Homo sapiens: one gene and its partners. The protein of the gene in region 1 purifies or fractionates together with the protein of each later gene. This does not show direct contact. Each region holds a gene or a part of one and is shown in the gene's direction. Other genes may lie near its edges.

What was found.
Region 2: the proteins of PPIE (region 1) and ZNF830 purify together in Homo sapiens (affinity purification with mass spectrometry; 5 studies listed by BioGRID and IntAct, with this or other methods). This does not show direct contact.
Region 3: the proteins of PPIE (region 1) and SYF2 purify together in Homo sapiens (affinity purification with mass spectrometry; 4 studies listed by BioGRID and IntAct, with this or other methods). This does not show direct contact.
Region 4: the proteins of PPIE (region 1) and BUD31 purify together in Homo sapiens (affinity purification with mass spectrometry; 4 studies listed by BioGRID and IntAct, with this or other methods). This does not show direct contact.

What each region holds. Positions count from the first base shown.
Region 1 is NC_000001.11:39,748,870-39,755,892, forward strand, and holds part of PPIE (peptidyl-prolyl cis-trans isomerase E), read left to right. Parts: intron 1-33; coding exon 34-219; intron 220-4,040; coding exon 4,041-4,183; intron 4,184-4,417; coding exon 4,418-4,486; 3' UTR 4,487-7,023. UniProt on the Homo sapiens protein: Involved in pre-mRNA splicing as component of the spliceosome. Combines RNA-binding and PPIase activities.
Region 2 is NC_000017.11:34,956,973-34,964,281, forward strand, and holds ZNF830 (zinc finger protein 830), read left to right. Parts: upstream 1-4,567; 5' UTR 4,568-4,594; coding exon 4,595-5,713; 3' UTR 5,714-6,805; downstream 6,806-7,309. Other genes in the region: CCT6B (T-complex protein 1 subunit zeta-2), read right to left, coding at 1,588-1,722, 2,615-2,678, 4,285-4,421.
Region 3 is NC_000001.11:25,229,480-25,236,935, reverse strand, and holds the start of SYF2 (pre-mRNA-splicing factor SYF2), read left to right. Parts: upstream 1-4,433; 5' UTR 4,434-4,468; coding exon 4,469-4,492; intron 4,493-4,724; coding exon 4,725-4,832; intron 4,833-7,456. UniProt on the Homo sapiens protein: Involved in pre-mRNA splicing as component of the spliceosome.
Region 4 is NC_000007.14:99,404,842-99,411,970, forward strand, and holds the start of BUD31 (protein BUD31 homolog), read left to right. Parts: upstream 1-4,127; 5' UTR 4,128-4,404; exon of another isoform or gene 4,405-4,423; intron 4,424-5,192; 5' UTR 5,193-5,328; intron 5,329-6,222; 5' UTR 6,223-6,251; coding exon 6,252-6,345; intron 6,346-7,103; exon of another isoform or gene 7,104-7,129. Other genes in the region: PDAP1 (28 kDa heat- and acid-stable phosphoprotein), read right to left, coding at 21-112, 3,695-3,707. UniProt on the Homo sapiens protein: Involved in the pre-mRNA splicing process. May play a role as regulator of AR transcriptional activity; may increase AR transcriptional activity.

The sequences.
Region 1 (7,023 bases):
TAACCCCAGCGCTTTTTCCTTTCTCAATTCCAGAGAATTTCCGCTGCCTGTGCACTCATGAAAAGGGCTTTGGCTTTAAGGGAAGCAGCTTCCACCGCATCATCCCCCAGTTCATGTGCCAGGGCGGTGATTTCACAAACCACAATGGCACTGGGGGCAAGTCCATCTATGGGAAGAAGTTCGATGATGAAAACTTTATCCTCAAGCATACGGGACCAGGTAGGAGCCAGTTGGCATGTGGTGACGAGGGAGGCTGGGCAAGGGTGGGATGGCCAGGCAGGATGGAAGGACAGGTTGTAGTTCTGGCTGGCGGACACTAAGAGTCTGGAGGAGACCCAGCCACCAGACATAGGAGAACCATGCAGCCTTGCTAGGGTGGAGTTGGCTTGTTGACATTCAGGTACTGTTCATCCCCCAACCGTGTCCACAATTCCTATTAGCCCCGCTTGGATTCTGTGGTCTGCTGTTGCAGGCTCTTATGCTCTCAACCCCACTGCTCTCCCTGCCCTCACCATCAGATTTACTCAGTAAAATCTCGGTGGTTAGTCCCCCAGCAACTAGAGAAAAAACACAGAATTGTACTGAACAATCCCACTTGAAATTTATAACTATAGTTCTTAAGGGGACCCTTGCCAACCTGACCAGATTTCCCTACTTGATGCTCAGTCCCAACCGGAGATGATGTGTCCATGCCCGTCTTCACTTCTGAAGCCCTCATATCATCACCTTCCCACCTCATCTAATGCTTCACCTCCTGCATCTCTCCACTCGTGCATGCTCTTTCTTCCAATTACAGGGGATGAGCTGTCTCTCCTAGGCCAGCCTCTCCACCTGTGGACTGGATCCTGTCCCTCTCCTCTACTTAGGAACATGGCTTCTAAAGTTGTCCCCTTCTTGTAATCCATTTCCCCTGCTCTGCTAGATCAGTCCATTAGCATGAAAGCATGCAGTTATCAACCTTTAAAAAAAATCTTCATCCGGTTGCCGGGTGCAGTGGCTTAGTCCTGTAATCCCAGCATTTTGGGAGGCAGAGGCAGGCGGATCACCTGAGGTCAGGAGTTGGAGGCCAGCCTAACTAACATGGAGAAACCCCATCTCTACTAAAAATATAAAATTAGCCGGGCGTGGTGGCGCGTGCCTGTAATCCTAGCTGCTCGGAAGGCTGAGGCAGGAGAATCACTTGAACCTGGGAGGCGGAGGTTGTGATGAGCCAAGATCGCACCATTGCACTCCAGCCTGGGCAACAAGAGCGAAACTCCGTCTCGGAAAAAAAAAAACAAACTTCATCCTTGTACTCTTGTTCCCTCTCCAGCTATCACCCATGCCCCTGGTCCCCCATCTTTTTTCAAGAAGTAAAAGCATAACTTCTTGAAAACATGGTACAGACTTGCTGCCTTCGCGTTTTCTCTAATCCCTTCTAGGCAGACTTCTAGTCCCATCTCGCCATTGAAACCACTCTTGCCAAAAATACGAGTAGCCAGTTCTTGGCGATCATCTTATCCCACCTCCCAGATGTTATCCCACCTCCCAGGAGCATTTCATACTACAGGTTGAGTGTCCCTTTCCTGAAATGCTTGGGACCAGAAGTATTTTGTATTTTGGAATATTTGCATTATACTTACCAGTTGAGCATCCCAAATCTGAATATCTCAAATCTGAAATGCTCGAGTGAGCAGTTCCTTTGAGTATCATATCAGTGCTCGTGAAGTTTCAGATTTTGGGGCATTTTGGATTTTGGATTTTCACATTTGGGATGCTCAGCCTGTACTAACTCTGTTCTCCTTGACTCCTTCTTCACTTGGCTGGCAGGACTCCTGCCTCTTCTTGTCTCCTTTTACCTAGATGGCTGCTTTTTCTGTCTTTGCTGTCTCCTTCTTTTCCTGACCCTTAAACACTGAAGTGGCTCAGAGCCCATTCTTTGGTTCTCCAGAAGCCTGTTACCCTGTGCTCCGTTTTTCTAACTGGTGGTTTGTAGGGCCCCTCTTTACTATACTGAACTGACATGTGTAGGTGATATAGCCCACTGACCCACATCGTTATTTTAAAAATCAGTATTCATCTGTAACTATAATAGGGAAGAACATCAGAGGAAATAAACGAATTTGTATAATACTCGAATATGTTTCCAGATGTACATGCTTAAGCACAGCTGTGTCAGAACACAAAGTGAATTATTCAGGCGTCTGCCCCTGTACTCAAACGCAGCAGTTAGAAATGCAGACGGGAGTGTCAACTGGATACCACTAGGAGTGATGCTATTGGTGATACGGCTTTGTGAAATGGTAGATAAAGTTGATTAGAGTCCAAAGTAAAGAATAATCTGTTTATTTACATAGTAGTTACATTCCTAGAAGATTCCATGGAAAATCAAAAGCACTCCAAAACTTTGGGCTTATATGTATAATGGAATTATGTTTTAGGTGCAGATAACTGTAAACACATTTTTTACCTATACCAATATCTGGCAGGATATTTGTTGTTTTGTTGTTGTTTGGTTTTTGTTTTTTTGAGACAGGGTCTCTTTCTGTTGCTCAGGCTGGAGTGCAGTGGTGCAAGACGGCTCACTGCAGCCTCAACCTCTCCAGCTCAAGCAGTCCTGCCTCAGCCTCCCAAATAGCTGGGATTATAGGTGCACGCCATCCATAATGCCAGGCTAATTTTTAAGTTTTTTGTAGAGACAGGGTTTCATTATATTGCTCAGGCTAGTCTGGAACTCTTAGCTTCAAGTGATCCTCCCACTTCAGCCTCCCAGAGTGCTGGGATTACAAGCATTAGCCACTGCGCCCAGCCTCTAGCAGGATGTTTGTAAGGGCCAAGAGGATATGAGACAATTCATTGTGCCAGACATTGCAGAACATCTAGCATTCCAGGCCCCCACCTGCTAAATGCCAGTAGCACCCCCACAATATTTCAGACAGTCAAAAACACTTTCAGGCCAGGCACGGCGGCTCATGCCTGTAATCCCAACACTTTGGGAGTCTGAAGTGGCAGCCCAAAGCCAGAGGATCACGTGAGTTCAGGAGTTCGAGACCAGCCTGGGCAACATAGTGAGACCCTATATCTACTGAAAAAAGAATAAAAAAATTATCCAGGTGTGGTGGTGCACGCCTGTAGTCTCAGCCGCTTGGGAGTTGAGGTGAGAGGATTGCTTGTGCCCCAGAGATTGAGGCTACAGTGAGCTGTGATGCACTCCTGTACTCAGCCTGGGTGACAGAGTGATCCCCATCTCAAAAAAAGTAAATTCAGATTTCCAAAGGTTTCCTAGGGACAGGACACCAACCCCACTGAGAAGCAGTGCCCTAAGCAGTCACACCCGGTCCCAGGGCTTTCAGCGGTATCTCTGAGTTAAGTTTGTGCAGACTGGCATCTGCATGCTGATGGCTCCCTGAGCTCCAGACTCCTGTCCAACTGCCTGCCTGTTGTCTTCACTGGATATCCCACGAGCATCTCACACTTTACATGTCTAAAACAGCTCTTGGCCTTCTCCCCTAAACTCTTCCTCCTCCTCTTCCCTGTTTCAATAAATGACTCCACCATCCACTTAGCCGCTTGATCAGAAACTTAGGAGTCATTGTGGACACACACACACATACATACATGTACACATACACACACAGACACACACATATACATGTACATTCTCTTACGTGACAAATGTCCATGTTACCAGGCCTCACTGTGTCATAGCTGTCATTTTGAATGGCTCTTTTCCACTGATTGTGAGCTCCACCAGAGCTTGGACTATGTTCTGCTCATCAGTGTTCCCAGGGCTTAACAGGGACCTGGTTGTCAAGTAGACACTTAATTGTTAAATAAATGAATTAATGAAAGAACAGACCAGTATAAAGTGATTGAAACACCTCACTTACCATTTCACTGACTATTAACTGAATCCAAGATAAGGTGGCCGCATTTGCATGTGATCTGTGCATCCCCGAGTCTGAGCCTGACTGGCTGAAGGGCTGTCAACAGCCTGCACAGACGTCCTTTAAGGGCTGGTAGCCAGGGTTCGGGGAGCTGATGGTTGTTCTCTCCCTCAGGTCTACTATCCATGGCCAACTCTGGCCCAAACACCAATGGCTCTCAGTTCTTCCTGACATGTGACAAGACAGACTGGCTGGATGGCAAGCATGTGGTGTTTGGAGAGGTCACCGAAGGCCTAGATGTCTTGCGGCAAATTGAGGTATGTGGCCAGGAATGGGCCTCCTCCTTACCCAGGCCCTAGGAGCACAGCCCTGTGTGAGGGCTGGAGAGTCTCTGTGGCCTGAGAGAGATGGCCAGGGGCTGTGTCCAGCGGGAGGGGCTGCTGCTGCCCAGGTTCCGGGGTGGAAGTGGGCAAATGGGCAGGCAGGGGTTGGTATCCCTAAACCACTGTTAGTCTCCGGCCTTACTCCCTCACTTCTATTCTGCCACAAAGGCCCAGGGCAGCAAGGACGGGAAGCCAAAGCAGAAGGTGATCATCGCCGACTGTGGGGAGTACGTGTGAGGCGGCACTCTCTCTGCTTCCCCCTCCGCTCTTGACCCTGCATATCCAGGAAGGAACTGCCAGCCTCAGAGGAGGCAGCACCGAGGGTGCCTGTTTGAAGCAAGCAGCATTTGGGATATGTGCCCTTCCTCAGGGTCTGCTTGGAGCAGCTCCTCTGCAGGCACAGCCTGGACTATTCCCAGGCACAGCTGTGGGCCCAGGAGCCAGCTCAGGTGCTCCCCTCCACCATGGGCAGGCTGTGCAAAAAGCCACTGGCTTTTCTCAGCATTTGCTGCTGGGCCTCTCCTGGGACTACCAGTGTGGCTCTTACGTGTTTTCTTTGCTAAAATAAACCCTAGTTCTTATATTGCTCTTCCTGCTAGTTCTTGGGAGTTGTCAGAGATTGTGTCTGTGGCTAAGCTGGACCTCTGAGGCAGGCTGGTGAGTGGGGAGAGCAGAGCATCTTTTTCACAGCTTTCATTTCCTCCCTTGGGCCGATCCCCTTAGATGTCAGGTGATGTATCTTCACACCAGGCATCGATGTCAGGGCAACGGAAATTAAAGACTGGAAAGCTCCGGTCTTCTGCTGCCTCTGCTCCTAAACCCAGCTGCCGGCCTTACAGCCAGCAAGTGTACTCTCAGTGGTTCATTTGTTTATTTGTTCACTTTCACCCTACAGATTTTAAAAAATGAAATTTTTATAACTCAAAGTGCCTTCTCTGTGCCAAGTACTATGCCTATTTGTCAGGAGACAGGAAGCCAACAAACTACATGTGCCTAATCCAGCCCACTGCCTGTTTTTATGAATCAGGTTTTATTGGAACACAGCCACGTCCATTTATTTACATATTGTCCATGGTGGTTTCTTACTGCAGTGGCAGAGGTGCGTAAGGGGCTATAGACACAATACAGGCTATGGTCCCTGTATTAGGGTTTTCTAGAGAAGCAGAACCAATAGGGTGTGTATATATGTAGAAAGAGATTTATTTTAAGGAACTGGCTCAAGCAGTGGTAGGAGCTGGCAAGTCTGCAATCTGCACAACAGACCAGCAGGCTGGAGACTCAGGAAAAAAACTGATGTTGCAGTTCAGCTCTGAGGCAGTTTGGAAGCAGAATTCTTCCTCCAGTGATCTCAGTCTTTTTTCTCTTAAGAATTTCAACTGATTGGATGAGGCCTACCCACATTATGGAGGGTAATCTGCTTTACTCTCTACTGACTTAAATATTAATCCATCTAAAAAATAGGCCAGGCATGGTGGCTCATGCCTATAATTCCACCACTATTGGGAGGCTGAGGCAGGAGGATCACTTGAGCCCAGGAGTTCAAGACCAGCCTGGGCAATGTAGAGACCCCCATCTCTAGGGGGAGAAAAAAAAGCCAGGTATGGTAGTGCACACCTATAGTCCCAGCTACTCAGAAGGCTGAGGTGGGAGGATCGCTTGAACCTGGGAGGTTGAGGCTGCAGTCAGCCATGGTCATGCCACTGTACTCCAGCCTGGGTGACAAGAGGGAGACCCTGTCTTGAAAAAAAGAAACCATCATCACAGCAACATCTAGACTAGTGTTTGACTAAAAACTGGATACCATGGCCTAGCCAAATTGACACACAAAATAGACCATCACAGTCCCAAGGCCTAAAATACTTACTATCTGAGCCTTTACAAAACAGGATTGCCAGCCACTGAAGAGAACAAATGGTCCCACCCCCTGCTGAGCTCACAGTCTGGCTCTCCTGTGTGCAGCCACTTCTTGGAGCTGGCTTCTCTCCACTCCCCCTCCAGATGCTGGTCAGCCAGGCGGTTATAAAGAATCTCATCTGCTGAAGGCTTTTAGCAGGGACTGAGTCCTGTAGCTGTTGGACACCTCCTGTGGGTTGGGTCACTCAGACCATTCAGAATCCACTGAGCTGAGCTTTTGCATCTTGGATTGAGATCTGGATGAGCCAGGAGGCAGGAGAGGCTAGGTGGTCCTCATGACCCTAGGATAGCTCTTGCTGAGGGATGGTGGCATTCTGCCCTACCTCTGGCTCCCATGTGCCGACTGGACTTTGTGAGCTCCAGCTGCTACAGTTGACTGAGTTCAGGCTCCATGTAGCTGGGATATACTACATGGTTACCCCTCACCCCTATGGAGCTTCCAAAAGAGACCCTCCCTCAAAGCACAGCCCCTTCTCTGAGTGCAAATAATGGCCATCAGAGGTCAGTCACAGGTGTTAGGCAGGCATCTATGAAGCTGGGGATGATAGCACTGACTTCAGTGCTTGGACGAGAACCAGGAGAGAGTGTGTAGAAAAAGCACAGCCAGCCTCCCATAAAAGGACAGACTCCTGTGACAACCTTGTCACTCTGTTCCTCCCTGATACTCTGGGGAGGTGGAGGCCAGTGGGCAGTTCTGAAAGCTCAGCAGGTTTGGAGCCATTGGGTGTGGACTCCTCTCCCAGTGTTCCTCCTGGGTGTTCACAGATGTTATTGAATGCACACTGGAACCCTGCACAGGTAAACTGAGGCTTTATTGGCGTGACTGCCAAAGGTCACACAGGGTGGTTTGGCAGAGCTGG
Region 2 (7,309 bases), on another chromosome or scaffold:
ATTTTTTTTTATTATTTCTAAAGACAGGGTCTCACTATGTTGCCCAGGCTGGTCTCAAATTCCTGGGCTCAAGTGATCCTCCTGCCTCAGCCTCCCAAAGTGCTGGGATTACAAGCATGAGCCACTGTGCCCAGCCAGTCTTACTTTCTTTTTCTTTCCTTTTTCTTTCCATTTTTTTTTTTTTTTTTTGAGATGGAGTTTCACTCTTGTTGCCCAGGCTAGAGTATGATGGCACAATCTTGGCTCACTGCAATCTCCACCTCCTGGGTTCAAGCAATTCTCCTGCCTCAGCCTCCTGAGTAGCTGGGATCACAGGCGTGCACCAACACGCCTGGCTAATTTTGTATTTTTAGCAGAGACAGGGTTTCTCCACGTTGGTCAGGCTGGTCTCGAACTCCCGACCTCAGGTGATCCACCTGCCTCGGCCTCCCAAAGTGCTGGGATTACAGGTGTGAGCCACCGCACCTGGCCTCTTACTTTCAAGATGGAAATACTCTTAGGATGAAACAGCACTGTGAGTGGAAGAGGTAAGAGACAAAGAACCTGTGTACTTGATGACTGAATTTTGTTATCACACAACCTGACAGTCTCCCTTATCTCTCAATTTTCTATTATGGGAGATAATCATTTCCTTATTGTTCAAGTGAGTTTTAGTCAAGTTGTTTACAGCCAAAAGCATCCTAAGTTGCAAGTACTGAATTAATAGAAAATTCCCAATACTAAACGAAACACAGAGAATCATTTTGACTAGGTTACTCTTTGCTGAAATGGTCCCTGAAAGAGAGAAAACATTCAGATATGGAGAAAAGAGATACTTAATTAGAGAAAGGTAAAAATGTACATGATGTTTTCAGAGGCCAGTGAACGGAGGAGTCTGGCTGAAGTAGATGATTTATAAAGAAAATGAAACTAGAAAGGAAGGTAAATTCACAATAAGTAAAACCTTCAATAATTTTTCTCCAGTGGTTTTATAAAGGTGCATAATTTGGTTTCAACTTTATCTATGGTGTTTTCTTTCTTAATTACCCATGGATACATGGGTAATTTTTTACTTTTTTAGGTCCGTTAAATATTTCATTTTTAAAAGAGGTATATAATTCCAACGAAAGGCATTATTTTGGCCAACAAAGTTCATTATTATTTCCATTTATAATTGTCCAAGAATATCTTAATTAAAATTAACTGTCTAGACCAGGCACGGTGGCTCATGCCTGTAATCCCAGCACTCTGGGAGGCCCAGGCAGGTGGATCACCTGAGGTCAGGAGCTCAAGACCAGGCTGGCCATGATGGTGAAACCCTGTCTCTAAAAAAAATACAAACATTAGCCAGGCATGATGGCGCATGCCTGTAATCCCAGCTACTCGGGAAGCTGAAGCAGGAGAATTGATTGAACCTGGGAGGCGGAGGTTGCAGTGAGCCAAGATTCTGCCACTGCACTCCAGCCTGGGCGACACAGTGAGACTCCATCTCAAAATTAATTAATTAATTAATTAAAACAAAATTAACTGTCTAAAACTCAACCATTTTACTAGTTAAAAAAATAATTTGCCATTCAAAATAACATATAAACTGTGAAATTCTAATACCTCAGAAATGTACAGGTCAGCTTGTTTTAATAACTCTCCAATAATTAGAACATTTGAAGTAGTACCATCTCCTGTGACGTCATCCTGAGCTGTTGCTACTTTTGCTATCAAGGAAGCTGTTGGATGTTGAATTTGCTGGAAAAAGCAAGCAACAGATTTAAAAAGACAGGATGAGATAAGGAAGTAGGTCACCAAAAGCAAGATAACCTAGGGGTCAGTAGCAAAATTAAAAAATGAAATAAGCTTCATTCTACAAGTTTACAAGTTTTGTATTATCAATACCTAAATGTCAAGTCCAAAATTTTAAAAGTGACAGGTAATGAGGCCTGAACATTTCATAAAAGTCTTTGCTTCAGAATGCAATGACATTTCTAAAATAAGATTAAATCATTCAATCTCAAAATGAATACATGTATTAAACTTGCAAAGGATATTTTTATTTTTCCATAATTACAAAGAACATAAGGCAGTGCCCTTAAAAGATATTATTGATTTATAAGTATGCCTAAGTATACAAAGTATGTATAAGTATACAAAGACTTGGAAACAGCCAAAAAAAAAAACTTTTTTTTTTTTTTTTTTTGAGACAGGGTTTCACTCTGCCACTCAGGCTGGAGTGCAATGGCACAATCTCATTCACTGCAGCCTTGGCCTCCTGGGCTCAAGTGATCCTCTCACCTCAGCCTCCAGAGTAGCTGGGACTATAGGCGTATGTCACCACACTGAGCAAAATTTTTTTTTTTTTTTTTTTTTGTAGAGACGGTTTTCACCATGTTGCCCAGCCTGGTCTTGAACTCCTGGGCTCAAGCAATTTGGCCACCTCAGCCTCCCAAAGTGTTGGGATTACAGGAGTGAGCTACCACACCCGGCCAAAAAAATTTTTTTATTGAGGTCTAATTCAACAGTCTTCAGCATATCTCAAGACTGCAGTATTTAGCTCACAGCCTTGGCTTAAAGATACACAAGTTCTACTATGCTTCTAATTAAGGCTTATTAAGGTTTATTAAAGTCAGCAGCATCAGCTCACCATCTCATCGAGCAGCACATTGCCATCTTTGGTGAGTTTGATGTCACCTGCACCAGAAACAAGCCTGTTCAGAGAAGAATGATATTAACTTCATGTGGTAGGAAGACATTCCCAGTGCTTGCCACTCCATTATCCTTAATAGAGGGAACTGGGCTCGGAAAACTTCCACTGTACCATGGGAATATGCCATGGTAATTACCACCATTTGCAGCTCACAGAATCATTTCTCCCCAGATGGACAGATTATGGAGATTTCATTCCAAATGGACTATTTACAGGTTTAAAGATAAAAGCACTTGATGAGTTACGAACTGTGGTTTGGTCAAAGAATACTTGGAAGTCTACAAAGCACAAATTCGCAAATTTCCTGCAGGTTTTAATTTTGGTGAATGTTTTCATTCATTCAGTCACTCAACTTAGTTTCCCTCATCCCTGCATTTATTAGATCACCAAGTTCTATCAATTCTACTACCTAAATATCTCTTGAATCTGCCACCTTCTCTCCATCTCCACTGTTATCATCTCTACTTTGGATGGCATCCGGATATCTCCAAACTTAAATATACCCTCCACACATTTTTCTTTCTAAAAGGCAACGTGATTCAGTCAGTTCCCTGATCAAAAGTCCTCCAATGATTTTTATGTTTTCCATCATTTTCAAGTTAAAATCCAAACACAGCAATGACATACTTGACCTTTCCCAATATCTTCCCTGCCTCATCTACTTTTCCACAAGCAAATCTTCTGGTTCCCTTAATATACCATGTTTTGTTTCGTTTCTGTTGGATTTGCACCATTGGTCTTTCTTATTCCTGAAATTACTTTGCCCAGGCCTTTACTCCCTCTTCCAACTAGTGAAGTCTTATTCTTCTTTCAAGACTGATCAAACATGTTACTTAAGATGCTTTTCCTTCTGCCATCAGTCCCTTTCTTCAGCATAATTATATGCATCTATATATAATTAGCACATCCTACTCTACCACATCCGTCTCTACCACATCTCCTTAAGAACAGAAACCGTTATCTTGATCATTTCTGTGTCCCAACAACTGGTACCTAAGTGACTTATTTTACCATTAATATTATTTTGTTCATTACTATGAGGATGTGTCTCTCCTCTTATACCCTTTTGCCCTCACTGGTCTCTTTTCCTCACTCTTGTCTATAGAAAAGGGTGCTTAATATATACTGAAAAGATGAATAGATCTGAACAACCATAGACACGGGGTATTCAAGTAGAACTTGGATTTGACCCCATGCCTTCCTGGCTCCAAAGCCTGTGTCCTCTCCACTACAATACATTGCCATACAAAAAACAAAACTACTTGTTGAATTTATGGACCAAGGGTATACAGTCTTAAGGAGCAGAGGAGTTAAATGCTTTGTTTCCAATGAGACACTAAATTAACTGACTTTCTAACTGCATATGAACCTTGACGACAAGTCGGGGGTCGGGGAAGCGCCACAGCTTCACTCCCGGGGCCCTCTACTAGGGGAGGCTTTTCTCCTCCACCTGCACCAGGCGAGAAATACCCCCAGAGCAGGGATGAGAATGAGGGAAATCAAGCTCGCAAGAACATCCACAGCGCTACGCGGACGCCTGCCTCAGAGGGCGACAGGACACCAACGGGCCCCTAGCCGCGTAATGGCCGCTCCAACCGCTGTCTCACATTTTCATGGTGCCTTTAGGACCCAAGTTGGTCCGCAGCACATCCTGCAGCCCTCGGGCGGCGCATATATTGACAGCCAAAGCTGCCCGGGCCCGCGCCACCTCAGCCTTGGAGTTGACGGCCTTTATCGCAGCCATAGCCTAACCGTTCAGAGGGAGAAAAAAAAAAAGCCTTAGTCGCGATTCTGAGCAAAAACGGCAATGCGACGCCACGCTCTCTTGAGCCTCGGCCAATCATCGCCCTTACAGGAAGTGACGTTATCATGCCTCGCCCGACGGAAACCAGAATCGTTTTGGGTCTGGTCGCCAAGATGGCGTCCTCCGCCTCCGCCCGGACTCCGGCAGGGAAGCGAGTGATAAATCAGGAAGAATTGCGGCGGTTAATGAAGGAGAAGCAGCGTCTGAGCACCAGTCGGAAACGGATAGAATCTCCATTCGCGAAGTACAACCGTTTGGGGCAGCTGAGTTGTGCCCTGTGTAACACTCCGGTTAAGAGCGAGCTCCTGTGGCAGACTCACGTCCTGGGAAAGCAGCACCGAGAGAAAGTGGCCGAGCTGAAAGGCGCGAAGGAAGCCAGCCAGGGTTCGTCCGCCAGTTCAGCGCCTCATTCCGTCAAGAGGAAAGCGCCGGACGCAGACGACCAAGATGTCAAGAGAGCGAAGGCCACCTTGGTGCCTCAGGTACAGCCCTCCACATCTGCGTGGACCACCAACTTTGACAAAATAGGAAAGGAGTTCATTAGAGCGACTCCCAGTAAGCCTTCAGGACTCAGTTTACTCCCCGATTATGAAGATGAGGAGGAGGAGGAAGAGGAGGAGGAAGGAGATGGAGAAAGAAAAAGGGGGGACGCCAGCAAGCCGCTCTCCGACGCACAGGGCAAGGAGCACTCAGTTTCCTCTTCACGGGAGGTAACAAGTAGTGTGCTGCCAAACGATTTCTTTAGTACTAATCCTCCCAAGGCCCCCATAATTCCTCATTCAGGGTCAATTGAGAAAGCAGAAATACATGAAAAAGTGGTGGAAAGGAGAGAAAACACCGCGGAAGCGTTACCGGAAGGTTTTTTTGACGACCCTGAGGTAGATGCAAGAGTACGAAAGGTTGATGCTCCAAAAGATCAGATGGACAAAGAGTGGGACGAATTCCAAAAAGCCATGAGGCAGGTCAACACTATTTCCGAAGCCATAGTTGCCGAAGAGGATGAGGAGGGACGGTTGGACCGCCAGATTGGGGAGATCGATGAGCAGATAGAGTGTTACCGACGGGTGGAAAAGCTACGGAATCGCCAGGATGAAATAAAAAATAAACTTAAAGAAATCCTGACCATAAAAGAACTGCAGAAAAAGGAAGAAGAGAATGCTGACAGCGATGATGAGGGGGAACTACAGGATTTGTTGTCTCAGGATTGGAGGGTGAAAGGGGCATTGTTATAGGGTTTTAAAGACCCAAGGTTTCTAACAGCCTCTGCTGTTGTATAAAAAGTGCTGTCTCTCAGTAGTATAGCGGTTACTTCATGCCTCAAGATTTGGGTACCTGGATTGCTAAACTGGATTGTTGAGATAAAATGAGCCAGTGAGCTACAGCACTTTGGAAAATTTGTGTAACATGTTTTTGAGGTAAAGTTGTTTTTGAAATTTCTGAAGTGTTATATACCAAAATGCCAACATTTCCACGACAGACTTAACTGTATAATTTCGTTGTAAAATCTGTAAGTTGTAAATATTGTACATAGTTAAATCTGTATTCTGTTTTGAATTTTTTTAATTAATAGAAAGACCAACCGGCAAACTTTCAGATGAATGCTTACTGTGGTATTTGGAATGTATGTATCTTCTGAACCCTACATCAAGTTGAAAAGGTTTGTTTTCTTGTTTCTTTGGTTTTTGTATGGTTTTTTAGAACACTTCATAAACACATAAGTCATTGTAGGTTAATCAGTTCTCTTAGTGTGCTTTATTTTAAAAACATAAGAAAACTATATGCCAAACATGACCAAACCAATGATGGTCAGATGTGGTTGCACATGAGAGTCACCTATGAAGCATTAAAATAATTAAAGTGTCTGAGGCCTTCCCCTTCAATAAATCTGGGATTGGGCCCAGGCAACTGTGTTTTTTAAGCACCCAGGTTATTCTAATATATGCCAGGGTTAGAGAGTAACTGCCCTAAATCCAGAACCCATTTATGTTTTTCAGGTTTTTTCTTTTTCTTTAAATAACACATTCCATAAATTTGCTGTTTCTTGAATGAAGGAAAAAATATTATCTTTTATTTATTTCATCCAGCCTTAAATTTTGTTATTTGGTGGTAAATTAGGGTTCCTTGTTTGCAGGTCCTATCTATTGTAGAAAGAATATTTAAGTTGTCTTTCCAGCAGTAACAATTGGCTCTTGCTGGTCATTGATAGTTTAAATCACTCCTTCCTTTAGAGATTGAGGTACTCAAATAGGAAAAGGGAATTAGCAGTGTTCTGGAGTTGAAATGCATACAGCATATTCAAATAAAAGTGAGCAATAATAATAATAGCTAAGACCTATATATTTCTTAGTATGGGCCAGGCATGGTTCTAAGTGCTTTACATATATTAACTCAATCTAGTTTCCCTAAAGTCTTTTTTTATGGAGAGGAGTACCAAGAGACAAGGTTTGAAAAGCCTTGAATGCTAAGTGAAAATTTTTGATGAAGTTCATATGAAAATGGAGGTTTTGAGCAAAGAATTACATCTGCAAAGAAGTATCATGGGACATTATTAACAGTATATAGAATGGAATGAACACGGAGGGTAGAAGGAAGCTAGGAGCTATTTGAAAACTATATTTTCAAAAGCAAGGTGACAAGACTGATTAGCTGAGGATTGGGAGAAAAGGAATAGAAGTGAAAGCATGTCATAGGAATAGCTAAATTCTTTTGTTGTTTGTTTTTTTTGTTTGTTTGTTTTGAGACGGAGTCTCGGTCTGTCGCCCAGTCTGGAGTGCAGTGGCGGAAACTCGGCTCACTGCAAGCTCCACCTCCCAGGTTCACGCCGTTCT
Region 3 (7,456 bases), about 15 Mb from region 1:
AGGCGTGAGCCACTGTAGCCAGCCCAGTTTTTAAAAATCACACAAATTATCATATTGCACAGAAAAGCAATGTTGAAAATCCTGTGAATACTCTTAATAAATCCTTACAAAATCAGTTGAGCAATTTTTACCACACATCTTTCCTTTCTATACTGCTTATCACTTCCAGAAACTTTAGTTAATTACAAACATTTCCATTTTTTTAAGTCCAGACTTGCAGATTTTAATTTGCAATATAAACAAATTGGTAATATAGAGCCCAATTTTACTGGCAGGAATAGGATTTTTTTTTTTTTTTTTCAAGACAGGGTCTCGCTCTGTCACCCAGGCTGAAGTGCAGTGGTGTGATCAGGGCTCACTGCAGCCTTGACCTCCCAGGCTCAAGCAATCCTCTCACCTCAGCCTCTCGAGTAGCTGGGACTACGGGGGCAGGCTACCATGCGTAGAGATGAGGTCTCGCTATGTTGCCAGGGCTGGTCTTGGACTCCTGCGCTCAAAGGATTCTCCTGCCTTGGCCTCCCAAAGTGCTGGGATTACAGGCTTGAGCCACCGTGCCAGCCAGGATTCTTAATAACAGTAAAATAAGAAGGATGTAAGCACTACTCTTCCCCAATAACTGAAATCCAAGAGGCACAAAACCACATGTAATTGTGTGGTTTTTTTTTTTTTTTTTTTGAGACGGAATCTGTGTCTCCCAGGAGTGCAGTGGCACAATCTGGGCTCACTGCAAGCTCCGCCTCCCGGGTTCACGCCATTCTCCTGCCTCAGCCTCCTGAGTAGCTGGGACTACAGGCGCCCGCCACCATGCCCAGCTAATTTTTTAGTAGAGACGAGGTTTCACCATGTTAGCCAGGATAGTCTTGATCTCCTGACCTCGTGATCCACCCGCCTTGGCCTCCCAAAGTGCTGGGATTACAGGTGTGAACCACCGCGCCCAGCCGCGATTCTATTTTTTATTCAGAAATACTGTTGACTATTCTTAGTTTTTCCATGCAAACTTTTAAATTTTTTTTAATTTTAGAATTGACACACTTATTTTTTATTTATTTTTTGAGACGGAGTTTCACTCTTGTTGCCCAGGCTGGAGTGCAATGGCGTGATCTCGGCTTACTGCAACCTCCACCTCCCCGGTTCAAGCAATTCTCCTGCCTCAGCCTCCAGAGTAGCTGGAATTACAGGTGCCCGCCACCACGCCAGGCTAAATTTTTTTATTTTTTTATTTTTTGTAGAGACGGGGTTTTGCCATGTTGACCAGGCTGGCCTCGAACTCCTGACCTCAGGTGATCTGCCTGCCTCGGCCTTACAAAGTGCTGGGATTACATGTGTGAGCCAAGGCGCCCGGCCGAAATACTTACATGGTTCAGAAGTACATATATCTTATTACACCCCCAAAACAGATGATGGCTTTTTTTTTTTGAGATGGAGTCTCCCTTTGTTGCCCAGGCTGGAGTGCAGTGGAGCGATCTTGGCTCACTGCAACCTCTGCCTCCCAGGTTCTAGCAGTTCTCCCACCTCAGCCTCCTTAGTAGCTGGGAATACAGCTGCGCACCACCATGCCCGGCTAATTTTTGTATTTTTAGTAGAGACGGGGTTTCACCGTGTAGGCCAGGCTGGTCTTGAATTCCTGACCTCAGGTGATCCGCCTGCCTCTCTCTGTCCTTTGTCCACAAGGACATTCCCTGTGAGGAAGGTAGGTAGCTTTTTTATCTTAGTGGCTTTTTCAGGTATAGAATGGGAGATAGGTTTGCCCTAAGCAGTTCCCAGCTTGACTTTTCCCTTTGGCTTAGTGATTTTGGGGCCCCAAGATTTATTTTCCTTTCAATGTGTAATTGTATCTGTAACATAAATTCCCAGAATTATGATAGCTGAGTCAAAGAGTAAATGCCTTAATTTTTACAGATATTGCCAAATTGTCTTCCCTAGGGGTTCAATCAATTTTTAGTCCTACCAGCAATATGTGTAGGATTCATTTTTCTTCGGTCTCATCAACACAATGTGTTATTGAACTTCTAAGATTTTTGCCACATTATTTTCCAGTTCCAAAAAACAAAAACAATGACCCACTGAGGTTCTGATGGGAATAACATGACATTTATAAACTCATTTGCGATACTCCTTTGTGATATTGTTTTTATAATATTAAGTCTTCCAACCAGAAAATAGGTTATCCACCATTTATTCAGATTTAATTTACTTCAAATTATCTTTTATTTTTATGTTACCATTTAAATTTTGTACCTAGGTATCTTTTCATTTTAGGGATTACTTTTCTTTTTTTTTTTGGTTTTTTGAGACAGAGTCTCGCTCTGTTGCCCAGGCTGGAGTGCAGTGGCGCAATCTCGGCTCACTGCAAGCTCTGCCTGCCGGATTCCCGCCATTCTCCTGCCTCAGCCTCCTGAGTAGCTGGGACTACAGGCGCTCGCCACCACGCCCGGCTAATTTTTTGTATTTTTAGTAGAGATGGGGTTTCACCGTGTTAGCCAGGATGGTCTTGATCTCCTGACCTCGTGATCTGCCCGCCTCGGCCTCCCAAAGTACTGAGATTACAGGCATGAGCCACTGCACCTGGCCTACTTTTTCATTTCTGTATCTAACTAGTAGTTGTTAGTGCAGAAAAAAATAATTTTCATATATTCCTCTTATATCCAGCACCTTACTTATCTTAGTAACTTTAGCACTGTTAGTAATTCTGGCATTGCCTCTCTGCTGAGCATGTAAGAGTAAACAAGATGGGTGGACTCTGCTGTTCTCCAGTAATAACGCTGATGAGAAAAATAGAAAATCAACAGACAAAAATAAAACTTATGCAATTGGAGAGAATTAAAATAGTGTCAAATGACAGTACTAAAAGTGAGACAGGGTAGTCAGGGAAGACCTGCTTCTATTTTTAAAAATTTATTTTTATGGCCAGGCACAGTGGCTCATGCCTGTAATCCCGGCACTTTGGGAGGCTGAGGTGGGCAGATCATGAGGTCAGGAGTTCGAGACCAGCCTGGCCAACATGGTGAAACCCTATCTCTACTAAAAATACAAAAATTAGCTGGGCATGGTGGCAGGCACCCGTAATCCCAGCTACTCGGGAAGCTGAGGCAGGAGAATCGTCTGAACCCGGGAGCCGGACGTTGCAGTAAGCCGAGATCGGTGCCACTGCACTCCAGCCTGGGTGATAGTGCAAGACTCTGTCTCAAAACAAAAAAACAAAAAAAAATTACTTTTATTTTTTAATTTAGAGACTGATTCTTACTTTGTTGTCCAGGCTGGTCTTGAACTCCTGGGCTCAAGCAATCCTCCCGCCTCCGCCCCGCAATGTGCTGGGATTGCAGCCATGAACCACCACACCAGGCCAAGGGCAAGACCTGCTTCTTGGAGAAAGTGACAACACCTTAAGCTCTAAATGGAAAGAACTTTCCACTCATGGGAATGAATGGCACTGCAGGTTTTTCCTGCTTACTGCAGACAAAACCAATTCACTGAAAAGTGCTACTGCAGTATACAGTTGTATTAACCTGAGGCTGGCCTCAGGGAAGAAGGGTTACCACTCAAGTAAGTTTTCCTGAAGGGTCAGCTCAGAGGTTAGGGTATTTCATAGTTTGGTGTGGGCAGGGCACTAGGGAATGGATGCTGCTGATTGGTTGGAGATGCAATCACAGGGGTGTGGACTACACTCCTCAACAGCTGAGTCCGCCTCTTGGGGGAGGAGTGGGACAGAAGAAGCGGTTGGGTCATGGGTCACGAGTCTGGGTGGGGTCAGTTAGTTGCCAGAATGCGAAAGTCTGAAAAATGCCTCAAAAGACCAATCTTAGGTGCTACGATAACGTTATCTACAGGAATAATTGGGGAAGTTACACATCCGATGTCCTCCGAAACAATGGCTGGTTATCGTTTACTACATTTTAGCAGAATTCTCCCCTCATAATCCTAACCTCCCGGTCTTTCATTAGTTTTATAAAGGCAGTTTCAGCCCCCAAACAAGGAGGGGCCCTGTTTAAGGAAGGGACTATGATCATCCTTGCTTAAAAGTTAAACTATAAATTCTCCCATGGTTAGCTTGGTTTATGCCCAGGAATGAGCGAAGACAGCCGGCCTGCGAGGCTAGAAGCAAGATGGAGTGAGCCATGTTAGATTTCTCTCACTGTCTTTGCAAAGGCGGTTTCCAGGAACAGCGTGCAGAATAGGGGGCTATCAGGCTCCTTTTGGTCATTTCTTCCTAGCCGTCCGATTCTGAGCTCTTCCCAACCCTTTTCTTGGCGACTTACCTCCCGCTGTCCTGGCCCACGCTACTTTTCGCGGCTGCGCAAGACCCTACGCAATCCAAAATATTTCATAGCTAAAAGGGTCCCAACTTCCGGAGACCTCCCGGAAGGGGCGGGGCTTATGGTAGCCCATTCGTACGTATCGGCCCGTTTGTCTGAAGGTTGACGGAAGTGCTCTATCTTGTTGCCGGAAGTGGGAAGAGAGAAAGGTTGTGATGGCGGCTATAGCTGCATCCGAGGTGAGTTCCACCCACCGTACACCGGGGGTTTTGTTGGTGAGGGTTCCGGGGAGCGGCCTGGAGAGAGGTGGAGGCGAAGTCTAGTTTCGCTTCAGGGAGGCTCAGACACTGTGGGGTCAAGTCGGCGGTGGAGGCCCTAGGCCCAGCCTGTGGGGACCGGCGGGGACTCGGCCTGGGCAGTCCTGGGAGAAGCTGAGCCGGCTCTGCCTGAAGCCAGTTCTCCTTGTCGCAGGTGCTGGTGGACAGCGCGGAGGAGGGGTCCCTCGCTGCGGCGGCGGAGCTGGCCGCTCAGAAGCGCGAACAGAGACTGCGCAAATTCCGGGAGCTGCACCTGATGCGGGTGAGTAGTCTTGGAGGCCGGCTTAGATCCGTCATCTGGCCAAGCCTGTGCGCTTTTGTAGAGGGGACGAGGAAGCCACACCACTGCGTCTGACAGACCAACAGAGCAGGATCATCTGAGAGGAAAGCTCTGTTCGGTGGTACTCAACCCTGGCAGCACATTGGGATCATTCTGAGAACATTTGAAAATATAACTGTTCACTCCAGCCCCTCTCCCACCCACATCCAATTTAATGTATCTGGGTTAGGTTTGGGAGTCTCCATTACTAACAACCTCCCTGCTCCGTGATTCCAACAAATTCTTCATTTTACCTAGGGAAATATGTAGAGCTAGAGACAGGAAGAAACTTGTCTAGTGTCAGTAAGAGACCTGGTTCACTTTAAAAAATAATAATCTTCTGTCAGAATCTGTTTGAGTGAAAAGAAAATAATCATCTGTTTTTGGGACTTCTGGGGGAAAAGAATAAAAAGAAAATAAAAAAAATGGCAAACTTTTGAAAGTCTACAGTGTGGTAGTTCAGCCAGTTGATAGGGAATCTGATGTTTAAGTGCCCTGGAGGTGCAGAGGAGGAGAGAGGAATGCAGTTTGTGGGTCTCCAGGGGGTGCCTCATGTAGTAGGTGACACCTAAACTACTGTTTGAAAGCCAGACAACTAAAGGAGTTAGAGAAAGAGATATCCAAGCAAAGGGAACAAATTCAAAGAAAGAGAATTTGTATTAGGGATAAGAGTCCAGCAAATAGCTTGCTGCAGTTGGAGCAGAGAAAGAGAAAAGCAGCCCCTGTTTCACCATGGAGTGACCTGACAGCTAGGCCATGGTTTCACAAAATCCCAAAATCACTCTGACTGTTGTAGTGAGACAAAACAAAGAAGACTTTTCAAATTACAAGAATGACCACATATTTCTTTCTTCTGACTAACACCAGTGACTGTTATTAACAAATACAGCATTAGTCTCACTCCGTTACTTCTGCCTCCTATATAAAAATGTAAGATACTGGGCCGGGTGCGGTGGCTCACGCCTGTAATCCCAGCACTTTGGGAGGCCGAGGAGGGCGGATCACAAGGTCAGGAGATCAAGACCATCCTGGCTAACACGGTGAAACCCCGTCTCTACTAAAAATAGAAAAAATTAGCCGGGCGTGCTGGCGGGCTACACGGGAGGCTGAGGCAGGAGAATGGCATGAGCCCGAGAGTCGGAGCTTACAGTGAGTCGAGATCACACCACTGCACTCCAGCCTGGGCGACAGAGCGAGACTCCATCTCAAAAAAAAAAAAAAAAAAAATCTAAGATACCTAATTGTAGAAAGCCCCTGCTTTCTGACAGTACCCAATCCACATCCTTAACCCTCCCCTCAGTCACCTGATACAAACCCAAATCCTGGAACAAGCCCTTCCTAACACCCTGTCACTCAAATGCCCACGGTTCCCCGTGGTTTGCTCTCTTCTGTGCAACAGACTCAACTTTGTTGACCGTAGGTATGTTCTTGGCGTCTTTAATTGCAGGGCTTTTCCAGGGCCAAGAATATACTAGGGATGGTAGTTGGGAGGAGTATCTCTCTTTGCCGAGGGAAAGTTAATCTAATAAACAATTAAAAAGACATGCTTAAATATTTAGAGTGATTGTGTAAGGAACACATGTCTGGAAATTAGGAGGCGGGGCTTCCTGGACAAACTGCCACCAGCTTATGACCTAAGGAATGTCTAACTCAAGTTTTCCTTAAGACGATACACTCATTTTGCTTTATGCAATTAAGTTTATTTAAAAATAGACTCTTCTCCCTGCTACCCCAGCTCCAAAAAAAAAAAAAGACTCTTCAATGATACTTCAAATGGAAAATTCCTTTCATTTTTCATTTGTCAATGCAAACTGTGAAAATATTTAAAAGGAGGGGAACTTGGAAAGCATTAGAGGCATTAAGATAGGTTTTAAATCCTCTAACCCAAATTGAGGCTTTTTTCTTGAATTAGGATTAAAAGATAATTGAGGCCTGGTGTGGTGGCACATGCCTGTAATCCCAGCACTTTGGGAGGTCCAGGCGGGCAGATCACTTGAGGCCAGGAGTTTGAGACCAGCCTGGCCAAACTGCAAAACCACGTTTCTACCAAAAATACAAAAAAATAAGCCAGGCATTGTGGCACACGCTTGTAACCCCAGCTACTCGGGAGGCTGAGGCATGAGAATTGTTTGAACCCCAGAGGCGAAAGTTGAAATGAGCTGAGATGGCTCCACTGTACTCCAGCTTGGGTGACAGAGTGAGACTCTGTCTCAAAAAAAAAAAAGAAAGAGTGTCTTTCACATCATGTGACGTAATTTTTTTTTTTTTTTTTGAGATGGAGTCTCGCTCTGTCACCCAGGCTGTAGTGCAGTAGTGCAATCTCAGCTGACTGCAACCTCTGCCTCCTGGGTTCAAGTGAATCTCCTGCCTCAGCCTCCCGAGTAGCTAGGATTACAGGTGTGCACCACCATGCCTCGCTAATTTTTGTATTTTTAGTAGAGACGGGGTTTCACCATGTTGGCCAGCCTGGTCTTGAACTTCTGACCTCAGGTGATCCACCTGCCTCAGCCTCCCAAAGTGCTAGGATTACAAGCGTGATCCACTGCACCTGGCCAATTTAATAGTAA
Region 4 (7,129 bases), on another chromosome or scaffold:
CTGGACAGGCACGTACTCACCCTGGCCTTCTGCTTCTCAGCCTGCAGCTGCGCGTCGATCTCCTCAGGGCTTGTATACTGCCTCGCCCGGCCTTTGTGGCCTCCCTTTCTTCCTGCAGAGACCCGCAGTTTAGGTGAGCGGAAGCAGCTGCCTTGACTGCTCTGACCCCCAGAGGGCTGTGTCCTGCTTGGAGTACTCTCATCGGAGGCCTCACCTACCCCTCACCCAGCACCACCCAAACCGACACCTCCGCCACCCTCATGTGTTCAAAGGCACGCAGGAAGCAACTCGTGACCATCTGATGCATCACCAAACTGTGTACTAAATGCTGGCTCCTACACAGAAGACCGGAGGGGAGAACATGGCGGACGGTGCACTGCAATGACTTGCTACATCCCCTGGTCCCTTACAATCCAAGCATAGTGGACTCAGATGCAACCACAGAAACATGTACCACTTACATCCCTGCCGTCACTATAAGGGCTTTTTACACGATGTTCTGTCACAGCCAGGGGCACTTTTTTTTTTTTTTTTTTGAGACGGAGTCTCGCTCTGTCACCCAAGCTGGAGTGCAGTGGCGCAATCTCGGCTCACCGCAACCTCCACCACCCTGGTTGAAGTGATTCTCCTGCCTCAGCCTCCCGAGTAGCTGGGACTACAGGCGTGCACCACTATGCCCAGCTTATTTATTTATTTTTAGTAGAGATGGGGTTTAACCATGTTGGTTGGCTAGAATGGTCTTGATCTCTTGACCTCGTGATCTGCCCACCTCAGCCTCCCAAAGTGCTGGGATTACAGGTGTGAGCCACCGCGCCCAGCCAGCCAGGGGCACAGTTGATCCTCGGAACAAACCTATGGTACAGGGGTGATAGCTGGTCCCATTTCATAGACCAGGAGACTTAGACCAAAGCAGACTGCGAAACACCACGAAGTTTAGAGTCCAACTCCCAGGTTCTACGCTTACTGGCTTGATGACTTTGGGCAGGTATTTAACCTCTCAGTCTCAGTTTCCTCATCTGTGTCCCTACCTTACAGGGTTGTCACAAAGATAGATGAATTAATCAATATACAGAAAGCTGCTGGAACAGTGCCTGCTACTGAATAAGCACTACAAAAATGTTCGCTAATATCCAGGCACAGTGGCTGATGCCTGTAATCCCAGCACTTTGGGAGGCCAAGGCGGGCAGATCACTTGAGGCCAGTTCAAGACCAGCCTGGTCAACATGGTGAAACCCCCTCACTACTAAAAATACAAAAATTAGCTGGGCATGGTGTCACATGTTTGTAATCCCAGCTACTTGGGAGGCTGAGAAAGGAGAATCGCTTGAACCCAGGAGGCAGAGGTTGCAGTAGCCGAGATTGAGCCACTGCACTCCAGCCTGGGCCACAGAGCGAGACTCCGTCTCAAAAAAATAAAAAAATCGCTGTTCGTTACTTTTCCCTCTAATCTAGTATTTGGTGGAAAAACAACAACAAAAGCACCACTGAGCACATAAGCAATTTACTGCAGATGTTGGAAACACAATAAAATACCTTGTGTTCACCTTAGTAGTATGGCAAAAAGAGAATACTTAAGGGAAAAAAAAGAAACCCAAACCTACAGGCAAAAACTTTGTGCTTAGACTAAGAAATGACTGGCAAAGTACAGATGAAAACAAACCTGACTACACAGTCTAAAAGTTAAAAATGTGACTAGCAGTTAAAGTGTCAGTTTTATAGTCTGACCCTCTTCAGCCAGAACACCAGGCTGACCCTTGCTTAAGCCATCAGCCAGTTTTAAAGCAAGGTGGCATCCCCCTCTGCTGGTCCCCAAGTATGCAAGGGTGGCTGTGGCCTCAACTTCCACACAGGAAGCTGAGGCCCACCTGATTTCCATAGTCTGTCTCTGTGAGCAGAGACTCTGTAATCAGCCAGAGTTGCTCTGCACTCCAGAGGCGGTAGCAGAGATACTGGCCTCCTCTGATTCCTTACAGCAGCTGCAAAGCCATAATTGGGCTGCTAAAGATCACACCACCCATTTTTAATGACTACCTAGGTTCCCAGGGGTGTCTAAGTCTATGCTTATTAAAGTCCTATTGTGAGAGAGCAAGTGTGCCAAGAAAAAAACCAACACCCTTTCTTGCTCTCTTAATACACCAGGCAACAGTAACAACTCAAAATTGATTACTATAGGCTCTCCTCTCATGCACTTGGCTATGGGACCCTGACCTTAGCTTGGTCCACAGTAATTTTATAGTAGACTCTTCAAGACTTTAAAAAACGATTTGCACTTAACATAATGGAAACAAGCGTTGGTCCTTTGCTCTTAGGGAGTTTGATACTTTTAACACCTTCACGGTTTTTTGTGGTTTTCAGATTAACCCAAGAAAATGTAAACCTTGTCTACCCCAAAAAGCTTTTCACAAGCCCAAAGACCATTTAGCTATGAATTCATATTTAAGGTTTTATCGTTGTAACCTCCAACCTTTACCCAAAGTATCCATTAAGTAAAACTTCGGAGGGAGGATGGCTCATTCAGCAACCTCCTTTTACAGATGAAGGGACTGGGGAACAATAGCAGAGAGACTTTTCCAGCCACAGAATAAATCAGTAGAGAGCTAGGTTTAAACACATTTAGCTCTGTAATGCCCAATTATCTCTGGAGTCAGGAAGCGATTTAGGTTTGAAAACGCTACAGGCAGATGTTTCTGTGGGTTGAGTGCATTAACCAATATAACACATGAGCTACCAACACAAATATATTTGTTCTGTGCCAGGAGGTGGCCAGGCACTTTATGAGCGCTATAATTTTACCACCCCGGCCCCAATTCAACAAGCTAAGGATTAGCCCAGTGTTTCAGATGAGGAAGAGGTTAACTTGTTCAGGGCCACAGAATTAGACGTGACATAGCTGGGATTCAAACTGGGGACTATCGATTCTAAAGGGGGAAACAGGATAGAGAACGGGCTAGAAGATAGAGGACGGGCTACAATGGACTGGGCAGTCATGAACCTACTTACAAGATCAAGAGCTGGCAAAGCCTTAAAAATAAGAATAGTTACTGCTTCACTGGGCACTTTTAACGACTGCCTGGCACTGTACTGCGCACTCCACGTGGATTACCTAGTTGAAGCCTCCCAACAGTACTAAGAGGTAGGTACAATCGTTATTCCCATTGGCAAATGAGAAAACGGAGACACAGGAGGTGGAGCGACTGGCTCAAAGGAACACACCGAGCCGCTACCGAACGGGGGAGTCGAAACCAGGTCTGGAAGGCTCATGGGCATCTCCTTAAGTCCTCCTAGGCAGGCCTGGCTGAACCGAAGCCAGAAAAAGCCCACGTTTTACGCGAGAGGCAGGCGGGCCCGGCACAAGCGCGGGACGCGGTGACTCAGTTCCTAGCCAGCCAAAGAGTGGGATAAATTCCAGAACCCCTAGACCCGGAGAAGCGCATCCTAGATCCGGCTTTCTAGGCCGGCGAGGACCCAGAGCTTCCGAAACTCCTCAGACCACTGACGGAGTGACTCTGGGACACCACAGTCCTCAGTTTCCCCATCGGGACAATTGGGCGTCGAGGCCCAGGCCTGGCTCTCAGCCGGTGCGGACAGCCTCCCTCTGCGCTGCTCTCAGAGACGCGCACGGGCTGAGGGGACAGCGGAAGCCGGACCTGGGCCGCCCCTCCAGGCCTGCGGGCCACCGGCGCCCGCCCCTCACCTCCTTTAGGCATTGCGGCTCCGGCGGCTGCGGCGGCGGCGGCGGCGCCTCGAACTGACACCGGAACCGGAAATAGCTTGGGCTCGACTTCTTCCTCCTGGGCCAGCCGCCGCCGCCGCTTCAGTGGCCGCAGTGGCCGCAAGGACCCGGACCTCAGGGAGGCCTCCGCACGAAGTCGGACCGTCCTGCGCGCCGCCTAAGTCCAGGCTTGCCCGTCTGCTGCCAGGCAACAACGCCCCTAGTCTCTCCGTTCGGGAAGACGCGTGGCCCTGCCTGCCACCCACCGGAAGTGAGGGCAAATGGCAACAGCGGCTCTGGAATTCTATACAGGCATTGCTGAGGACACCTAAGATGACGCAATCTCCGCGCGGGTAGGGCGGGGCTCCGCAAGGACCTCATGCCTTAGAGATCGCCTGAAGAGCGGAAGCCTTCTGTCGAGAAGCAGCTACCCAAGCTCCAGGAGCTTCCGGTATGTGTTTTCCCTCTGTTCTCGATTACCTTGGCAACGGCTGAGGCGGGAGACCGGTGGTCTGCACCGTCCTGGAGGGAGATATGAGTGGCTGGACTCTCAGCCAGCCACTGGGATGTGTTCGGGCTTTGGACCTTGAGGCCGGAGAGAGCTCCCGAGAGGAGGCGGCGCCACGTTCGTTCTTCTGAGGGGACGGTAGATTTGGGGGTTTTCCTCTAGGATTCTCGCGCCGTTTCCTCTGGTAGGAACGTCTTCTGTGTTCTGATTGTTTTTCTAAGCTGGGTTCAGATGCTGTCCTTTTTATGAGTTTTCCCTACAATCCTGCACTATCTTCCTTCGCTCCTCCTCGCCTCCTTCCCCTAGCGCCCCAATCTCTCTTACACCTCCCGGCACATCTTTCTTCTCGATCTGATTACCTCCTACGTCCTCTTTCTCCTCGATCTGGTTACCGCCTACCATTTTCACCTCCGAGAGGCCTCTTCTGACTTCCAGGCTGGATCAGGGCCCTCGAATTTCCCTGGGTCGTAGAAAAGCGATCATTCTCTTGTCACAGACTATGCGCCTTGGGGCCGAGACCAGAATTCACCTATTTTTAGCTTCAGCGTAGGGGAGACTAGTGCGAAGACCACTGATTTGGGAGTCAGGAGCCCTCCAGAGTCAGGTTTTGCAAATTCTCAGCTGTGTGACCCTGATTCTACCTTATAGAGTTTGATTCCTCCTCTATATGGTTGTTTTAGAGAGTTCATGAGAGGAGGCTCTGTGGGCGGGGGGGGGGTGGGTCTTTGTAAAGTGTCAGTACAGAAGGGAGTGACTGAATGAATTTGAGAGAGATGAATCTGTTATGCTGAAAGGTAAATACTTAACCTGGGTTCTCTCTGGCAGCAAGGAAATGCTGTGTGGTTTGAAAAACGCTTTGCTATTTAGATTGGGATCGGCCTCTTGTATGGGAACTACCTGACTTTATGTAATATGTTGTTTGGTGTGAAAGAGACCTTGGCAATCAGCCAATCCACTGCCCTCATTTTACAGAAGAAACAGGACCAGAGAGGGAAGGTGACCTGAAAGTCACAGAATAATTTTTTAGAGCTGAACAAGAATCCAAGCCTGCAACTGCAGAGACGAGAGATCTTTCTGCTGTCTATACTCTTGGAAAGCACATCCTAAGGTACTTTGATTTTACAGTCATCTTTCCCTTTTTATTTTATGTTTTGTTTTGTTTTGTTTGTTATTGAGACATGGTCTCACTCCGTCACTTAGGCTGGAGTGCAGTAGTGTGAACATGGCTAACTGAAGACTTTCAACCTCCTGGGCTCAAGTGATCCTCTTGCCTCAGCCTTCCGTGTAGCTCAGACCACAGGCACCCACCACCATGCTCAGTTAATTTTTTTGATTTTTTTTTTTTTTTGGTAGAGATAGGGTTTCACCTCATTGCTCAGACTGGTCTCAAATTCCTGGGCTCAAGTGATCCTCCCATCTCAGCCTCCCAAGGTGCTGGCCAAGACCAGAATTACAGGCATGAGCCACCGTGCCTGACCTTCCATCTTTGCCTTTTTAAATACTCACCCCCATGGCTCCCCGAGTCACAGCCCTCCTTATACTCTATTGTAATTGCTTTTTCTCTTGTCTGTCTCTTTGCTAAAATGTCACCTTCTAAGGGGCAAAGGCTTAACTTTTGTTCTGTGTTCCCAACATCCAGTATAGGGTTAAGCTTTTAGTTGAAGTTAGCTAATGACAACAGCAAATGTCTCTTAGGCACACATTATACACCAGGCATGATAGATACAATTCTAATGAAGTCTTTGCAATGACCACATAAGGTAGCTTCCATTATCCCCATTTTACAGATGAGGAAACAGAGGCTTAGGAAGGTTAAGTACCTTTCTGAAGATCACAGCGGGTAAGTAGCAGAGCCAGGATTTGAACACAGTCTGGGTGCTGAGCCCTGTCCCATAGCTGTGACCCTATGCTGACTCAAGGAAGTCAGCCTGTACCGAAATAATGGCTGGCAAAGGCCTTTGGGGATTTGAGACTCAGAAACCAATTCATTTTTTTCCCCCAGATCTTTGCAGATTATCCTGTGGAAGGAAAATGCCTAAAGTCAAAAGAAGCCGGAAAGCACCCCCAGATGGCTGGGAGTTGATTGAGCCAACACTGGATGAATTAGATCAAAAGATGAGAGAAGGTGAGTAGGGGAGTTCCTGTCTGGGTGGGCTGGGTCCAAGGGTCACAGGCTTAGATGCCCCCAGGGGACAGGCATAAATGCAAATATAAAAAGAGAGTGGTCTACTAACACTGACATGTTGTGTTTGCTTATGAACTTGGGGAAATACTGTAAGTGCCCGAAAATAAGATAACATTAATGAAAAGGTCCTCAGAAAAGGTGTTTTTTTTTGTTTTTGTTTTTGCCAACTCGAATATAAAAGGTTATGAAATATAGATCAAATAGTCTACCTATAGTTATTTACTATTTTGGTTAGATATATATTTAAAATCATACAAAATATATTTACTTGGAAGTGCTATTCCTTTTCAGTATCATCGATTAGTCTTTGCCGCATCTGTTTTCTGTCACTTCCTTGTAAATGGCGTGTGATCCTGCTTTGTGAACCCGTGTCCTATGCTGTCTTTGGAAATTTTATCTGAAGCCACAAGCATCTGTTGGCCTTATATGATCACAGTGTGGCCACTTACCAATTGACTTTTTTATTTTTATTTTTTGAGTTGGAGTCTTGCTCTGTCTTCCAGGCTGCAGTGCAGTGGCGTGATCTCGGCTCACTGCAACCTCTGCCTCCCGTGTTCAAGTGATTTTCCTGCCTCTCAGCCTCTCGAGTAATTTGGATTACAGGCATGCGCCACCATGCCCGGCTAATTTTTGTATTTTTAGTAGAGATGGGTTTCTCCATGTTGGCCAGGCTGGTCTCGAACTCCTGGCCTCAAGTGATCCACCCACCTCGGCCTCCCAAAGT